Homo sapiens: one gene and its partner. The protein of the gene in region 2 binds, or shares a complex with, the protein of the main gene of each other region. Links are inferred from orthologs where the notes say so. Each region holds a gene or a part of one and is shown on either strand. Other genes may lie near its edges.

Region 1 (3,750 bases), on a different chromosome or scaffold from region 2:
CACTGAGGTGGACATTCACAGGACTATACCCAGTCAAATTGAATGCCATTATCTGGGAAAAACTTTCAACTTCTTCAACCTCCTGAGTTATTCACTTTTGTCCAGGTGGGATTTACTTCTCTCTGTGCTTCAAGCAGCTCTGAAACTTTTTCAGAGAGAAAAGTCAAGTATGGAAACCTGGTCAGCAGAGACCCTTTATTGTCGGTGCAGAAATGTGGTTCTGGGTGGGGAAGTGCTCTGCAATGCACGGAGCTCCTTACCAGCATTTAGGCTTAATAGGGCAGTGGAAACATGAACCAGGATTGAGTATCTACAGAAGCAAGGCATTTTTAGTTTGTTTTGCTCTGAGTGAGGCCTAGAGGCACAGGGCAGTGAGCAAGAGTCTCCTTAGTAGCTAGCGCCCCAGGGGGCCAACAGGGTTATGTGTCAAGCATACACTGGGTGGGACTGGGAGACTCTGGCAGAGTGACTCAGGCTTTTTGCCTGTAGAAATCCTGCCTACACTTTAGGGTTCGGTTGAAATGCTACCTCTTTATGGATCTGCCCTTGATTTCCTCCTGGCTATTTCTGAGCTTTCCTTTTTCTGAACTCCCTAGTACCTTGCTGGTTTCACTCATGTCCCTTGTATTACAGCTGCCTGTGTAACCGTGTGATCAGAGGCATCATGGGAGAGAGAGCCTAACTTGGGTTTGAGTCAGATTCAGTTACATGTTAACTATGTGACATTGGGCACATCACCTAACCTTTCTGAGCCTTAAGTCCTTCATTTGTAAAATAAGAATAATATTCACTTTACCAAGCTGTTTGAAAGATTGAATGTAGGGTATGTACAAAACTTGATATATACTATGCATTTAATAAATTGTCATTTATTGCAGACTGTAAGCTCTTAAAAAATAGAATCTTATTCATCTTTTTTTTTTTTTATCTCCAGCACCTGGCACAGTGCCTGGGACATAATTAGGCACTCAGTAAATGTTTATTTGAGTCAAGTAATGAATTACTTTTAAAAAGATATTTCTCAAAATTTCTTATGTCCTGTTTAGTGTTTCCTAAAAAACTTTAGCCCCTGGGTTTTGACTTCTGTAGTCTCTTAATGAAAGAGCTAAAGAAGACATTCAACATGTGAAAGGGGGACAGACTGCCCCAAGAGCTCCTTGGAAATCTTCATGTTATTTCCTGCTTACATCTGATTGATGATTTCAGGACAGGATGGCTTAGAACATCCATCAATTTTTTTTTCCTTCCAGATTCTTAGAATTTGCACCAGGTATACCCCAGAACAAGACACCATGACTTTCTCAGACGGCCTTACCCTAAATCGAACTCAGATGCACAATGCTGGATTTGGTCCTCTGACTGACCTTGTGTTCACCTTTGCCAACCAGCTCCTGCCTTTGGAAATGGATGACACAGAAACAGGCCTTCTCAGTGCCATCTGCTTAATCTGTGGAGGTACCAACTATGTAGAAAAGCCTCATGAAATTCCATGAAGAACAGTTTATACTTGTAATTTGTGAAAAATTCCTCATTTCCCTTTTGGAGTTGTTTTACATGGGAAAACATGTGAATAAAGCCAGGCATACATGCCTGGTTTCATTGTATTTTTCCATGTTGTTACAAATTAACTAATGGTATTTGGGATCCTTCTGCTCAGAAAGAAATCCCAAAAAGCTATTACTCCAATTGCCACAGATTTTTTTTCTTAAAGGCAGGATCACACTATTATAAAATGAATTGTCTGGGGACATTTGAATGATGACAAGGGACTTGTATGTGCTGTTTGTTATCTAGTGGGTAGGCATACAAGTATTTGGCTGGGCCCTCCCACCAACCCTTGCAGGACTGGGATAAAATTTAGCTTTCTTCTTTGTAGTGACCCCTACTGGCCTATAGGAGGCTGAATCGTAAGTGGTTAAAAAGTAATGGTTTTAATTAAGGAGCAGATTTATTTTATGCTAAAATAACCATCCTGCTCAAGATTTGTTTTAATTCAGTTTGGTAGTGACACCTTCTGGTCAAAGGAGGTAATTCTTTCCCTGGGACAAAAGCAACCAGGCATCAAAATGTTTATACTACCAAGGGGGGGCAGTTTTTTTTTGTTTTTCAAGTATCACTGCTTAAAGCAACTGCATAAGTCTGCAAATTTGTGTATGTAATTGAATTACCAAATTAATGAACTCATAACAGTAGGAATAAGGAAACAAGGAAGAGGGGAAAAGGGCATAAATCCTGATTTTGTTTAATACTTTATTCCTGGTATCCAGACCGCCAGGACCTTGAGGAACCGACAAAAGTAGATAAGCTACAAGAACCATTGCTGGAAGCACTAAAAATTTATATCAGAAAAAGACGACCCAGCAAGCCTCACATGTTTCCAAAGATCTTAATGAAAATCACAGATCTCCGTAGCATCAGTGCTAAAGGTATGTCTTCGTGCTCTCAGTACTGTAGTCACACAGTGGACTTGAGGGCCTTACCAGGTTGTGTTGCTTTATTCAATTCAGGATGTTTAATGGCTGCTTTTAAAGTCTTGGAACTCATTTCTCATTGAAATCAAAAGGAAATACTATCCCTCCCCCCTCTAAAAAAAAAAAAAAAACACCTCAAATCTTACCCTATTCAATTATCTTAACGATTGAGAGCTTTAAAATTCATGACTGATTAGAAAAACATTGTTTTCAAGAGAATGTACTAAAACAGGCTAATTCTCTAGGTTCATACATTTAATTCCAGCTTTCTACACATCTCTGGTTTATGTTACCTTGACTCCAGTTTTTCTTGAATATCTAAACCTTTGTTAAGTTTCTCTCAATCACTTTAGCCATTGCTCTTTTGTATATAGGCAGATTTTCTTCTGCACACTTCTAAGCAAAGGAATTCTTGCCTAAGAGGTATATTCTTTGCCTAGTGATTTTCTGTTTATGTAGCAACTCAAGCAATTAATAGAGGTGCCTAGATCCATATCACAGTTGAGTGTTTAACAGTAAGGTTTTTCTATGTAGAGAGACAACTCAGCAGCTATCCCTGGTACCAAATGGGCTATTGTCATTCTCCTTTCCCCATCAGACTACTTACTCTGTCTCTGAAGATGTTTGCTAGCCAAGGAATAAACTCTGTATTTCAGAAAGTGCTTAAAAGCACAGGGAACTTGTTTGACAAGCAGTCTTAACTCGAGCTCCTTCTAAGAGGTCTCCTAGATGAGCATTCTGAATTCATCCTTGCATGGAATTAAGAGTAGAAGTAAACAGCAGATACCAGTGTGGTTGTGAATACGGTATCTTTGATTTTTAAAAATGAGGCTGTTTAACATAATACTATCATTCTGTATAGATGACTAGACTAGTGATATCTAATAGAATTTACTGCAATTACAGAAATAATCTGTACTGTCCAGTTCAGTAGCCACCAGACACAAGAGGTTCTCGAGCACTTGAAGTGTGGCTTATGCAACTGAGGCACTGTTTTTCTCATTTTATTTAACAAATTTAAATTTAGCTACCTAGTGGGTATTGTACTGGACAGAGTGCTGCTAAATCTAGTTGTCAATAGTCACTGCACATCGTGAACTCCTCTGTTTGTGGGTAACTGCCATCAACCTGTCTTTTTCAAGATACACTTCTTTCATCAGGAACTTCTCTTTGTAAATTGTTATTTCCTGAAACTAAGACATCATATTTAAACGTCACCATATCTCAGCTGCTTTTCCACAAAGTAAAAATGTTTTAATGGTGTAAAATAAGGATAGCC
Region 2 (3,750 bases):
TGGCATGAACTCGGGAGGCGGAGCTTGCAGTGAGCCGAGATCGCACCACTGCACTCCAGCCTGGGCAACAGAGGGAGACTCTGTCTCAAAAAAAAAAAAAAAAAAAAGAGATTTTGCATTTATGGTTTAGGAACCTCTTTAATACAGATTTCTGAGGTAGTTTTTATGTTAGCTAGGTTAGGAAATCACTAGCATAGTGCATTTACTAAAAAGACATCTTTTCAGCCTAATTAGTAATTGATTGACATTTATAATATCAGCTGATGAAAACATTCACTGTGGAGACTTTTCTGCACTTTTTTGAGTAGTAGGTTTTTTCAGGATACTTTGTGGTTGGAATACAATAGGTAACTAAATAGCACTCGTTAACTGTTCTTTTTGCCCAGGCTCTTCCTGGTCAGCAGCACTGCTATTTCCTCAACAAGGATGCTCCTCTTCCAGATGGCCGAAGTCTACAGGGAACCCTTGTTAGCAAAATCACCTTTCAGCACCCTGGCCGAGTTCCTCTTATCCTAAATCTGATCAGACACCAAGTGGCCTATAACACCCTCATTGGAAGCTGTGTCAAAAGAACTATTCTGAAAGAAGGTACTGCCTTTCCTTTGATATGCTTACTGGAAGATGGAAACTTACTTCTCCAGTGGTTCTTTAATTGGTGGCCCATCAGAATCACCTGTAGAACTTAAAAAAAGTTTTTTTTTTTTCATATTTGGCATAAAAATCAAGCAAATTAGCTGCACGTGGTGGTGCACGACTGTAGTCCCACCTACTTGGGAGGCTGAGGAAGGAGAATCGCTTGAACCCGGGAGGCGGGGGTTGCAGTGAGCTTAGATCATGCCATTGCACTCCAGCCTGGGTGACAGAGCAAGACTCTGTCTCAAAAAAAAAAAAAAATTCAAACATGTGGAGCTTTTAACACTACAGATGATGGCCAGGTGTGGTGGCTCACGCCTGTAATCCCAGCACTTTGGGAGGCCAAGGTGGGCAAATCACTTGAGCCCATGATTTGAGATCGGTCTGAGGAACATGGCAAAACCCCATCTCTAGAAAAAAGTAGCCAGTTGTGGTGGTGTGCGCCTGTGGTCCCAGCTACTCGGGATCCTGAGGCAGGAGGATTGTCGCTTGAGCCTGGGAGGCAGAGATTGCAGTGAGCTCAGATTGCACCACTGCACTCCAACCTGGGTAACACAGTAAGACCCTGAATCAAAAACAAAACACCAGGCTGAGTGCAGTGGTTTGTGCCTGTAATCCCAGCACTTTGGGAGGCCGAGGTGGGCAGATCACAAGGTCAAGAGATTGAGACCATCCTGGCCAACTAGTGAAACCCAGTCTCTACTAAAAATACAAAAATTAGCTGGGTGTGGTGGTATACACCTGTAGTCCCAGCTACTTGGGAGTCTTAGGCAGGAGAATCACTTGAACCCAGGAGGCGGAGGTTGCACTGAGCTTAGATCATGCCACTGTACTCCAGTGTGGGTGACAGAATGAGACTCCCTCTCAAAAAAAAAAAAAAAATCACAGATGCTGTGTTTCCACACGAAGATGAACTGAATGATAATCTCAGTGGGAAGAGTTGGGAATCTAAACTCCACAAATCATTTTGATGGAACCAGTCTGTAGACTAGCATTTGGAGACCACTGCTTTTTGCAATGTTCTTAACTCTTTTTCTGAACATAGTAATGTAACTGGGTATTTTAGGGGCTGTACCCTGTAGCAGATATACATAAGGTAGAACTTGGAATGCTGTAGTGAGAGAGGCTTTTTTTTTTTTGAGACAGGGTCTCACTCTGTTGCCCAGACTGAACCACAGTGGCATGATAACAGCTTTCTGCTGCCTCTACCTCCTTGGCTCAAGCGATCCTCCTGCCTTAGCCTCCCAAGTAGGTGGGGCTATAGGCATGTACCACCAAGCCTGGCTAATTTTTTCTGTAGAGACAGGGTCTCTCTATGTTGCCCATGTTCGTCTGTAACTCCTGGGCTGAAGCGATCCTCTTGACTAGGCCTCCCAAGGTGCTGGGATAATAGGTGCCACCGTGCTTGGCCAGTTTTAGGTTAAATTTTAGGTTGTTAGGAGAGTGCTTCCCAGGTTTAGTTCTGAGTATGTTTTCTCTCCCCATTGTTTGGAGAACTTAATCTTACAGCTTTAAGAAGGTTTAGCTCTTTTTTCTCTCAGGATTCTGGAATGCTGATGAATTTTTTTTTTTTTTTTTTTTTTTTTGAGACGGAGTCTCACTCTGTTCCCCAGGCTGGAGTGCAGTGGCATGATCTTGGCCCACTGCAACCTCCGCCTCCCAGGTTCAAGCGATTCTCCTGCGTCAGCCTCTGGCTAATTGTTTAAATTTTTTTTAGTAGAGATGGGGTTTCACCATCATGGCCAGGCTGGTCTCGAACTCCTGACCTCGTGATCCACCCTCCTAGGCCTCCCAAAGTGCTGGGATTACAGGCGTGAGCCATGGCACCCGGCGTAAATGCTGATGATTTTCAAAGACAGTTGGCTATTAGAAGCTTTGCTGTAAATTTTGGCTGTTCTAGCTAACCATAGTTAATTTTAAAAATCTTAAGTCAGAAGCGCTCTGTTGATAGATATGTGTCAGTGCCAGTGATAGACAATAAGAAATAGGGAAGGCAAATCAGATCTCTTTTATTTTTATTTATTTATTTTTTGTTTGTTTTTTGAGACGGAGTCTCGCTCTGTCGCCCAGGCTGGAGTGCAGTGGCGCAATTTCGGCTCACTGCAAGCTCTGCCTCCTGAGTTCACGTCATTCTCCTGCCTCAGCCTCCCGAGTAGCTGGGACTACAGGCACCCGCCATCACGCCCGGCTAATTTTTTTGTATTTTTAGTAGAAACGGGGTGTCACCGTGTTGGCCAGGATGGTCTCGATCTCCTGACCTCGTGATCTGCCCGCCTGAGCCTCCCAGAGTGCTGGGATTACAGGCATGAGCCACCACGCCTGGCCTTTTTGTTTTTTTTTTTGAGACGGAGTCTTGCTTGGTCACCCAGGCTGGAGTGCAGTGGTGTGATCTTCACTCACTGCAACCTTTGCCTCCTGGGTTCAAGCAATTCTCTTGCTTCAGCCTCCCAAGTAGCTCGGATTACAAGTATCCACCACCATGCCAGGCTAATCTTTGTAGTTTTACCAGAGACGGGGTTTCGTCGAGTTGGCCAGGCTGGTTTTGAACTCGTGACCTCAGTGGTCTGCCTGCCTCGGCCTCCCAAAGTGCTGGGATTACATGCGTGAGCCACCATGCCTGGACTTTTTTTTCTTGATACAGGGTCTTGCTCTGTTATCGAGATTGGAAAGCAGTGGTACAGTCATAGTTCACTTTGGCCTCAAACTCCTGGGCTCAAGTGATACTCTTCCCTCAGGCTCCTCAAGTCGCTGGACTATAGGCATGCACCTCTACATCTAGTCAAATTTTAAAGAAATTTATATTATACTTTTTATTTCAGTGTACATATTTATACAGCAACATTTTTTTTGTAGAGATGGTGTCTTGCCATGTTGTATAGGATAGTCTTGAGCTCCTGGCCTCAGGCATTCCTCCCACCTCAGTGTCCCAAAGTGTTGGGATTACAGGCATGAGCCACTGTGCTGGGCCAGGAGATTCTTCTCATGGAAATAAAAATTGCTTTAGAAATGAGAAATTTTTAGTAGTTGGAGTAATAACATAGAGCATATATGTTCAAAGTTGTGGCACTTCTGTTTCATGTGTTAAAATGCCTTAAGAAGTCTCCAGATAGCTTTAGG

The links. The genes of interacting proteins can lie anywhere in the genome.
Region 1: the proteins of MED1 (region 2) and RARB are in contact, whole or in part, in a crystal structure (PDB 1XDK), measured with the Mus musculus proteins. The link is inferred for Homo sapiens from one-to-one orthologs. Residues at the interface, in NP_001073587.1 of Mus musculus: His642, Pro643, Met644, Leu645, Met646, Leu648, Leu649, Lys650, Asp651; in NP_001276689.1 of Mus musculus: Ile264, Val267, Lys271, Phe276, Ile281, Gln284, Ile285, Leu288, Lys289, Pro435, Leu436, Glu439, Met440.

What each region holds. Positions count from the first base shown.
Region 1 is NC_000003.12:25,592,253-25,596,002, forward strand, and holds part of RARB (retinoic acid receptor beta), read left to right. Parts: intron 1-1,250; coding exon 1,251-1,455; intron 1,456-2,267; coding exon 2,268-2,426; intron 2,427-3,750. UniProt on the Homo sapiens protein: Receptor for retinoic acid. Retinoic acid receptors bind as heterodimers to their target response elements in response to their ligands, all-trans or 9-cis retinoic acid, and regulate gene expression in various biological processes.
Region 2 is NC_000017.11:39,416,555-39,420,304, reverse strand, and holds part of MED1 (mediator of RNA polymerase II transcription subunit 1), read left to right. Parts: intron 1-386; coding exon 387-588; intron 589-3,750. UniProt on the Homo sapiens protein: Component of the Mediator complex, a coactivator involved in the regulated transcription of nearly all RNA polymerase II-dependent genes.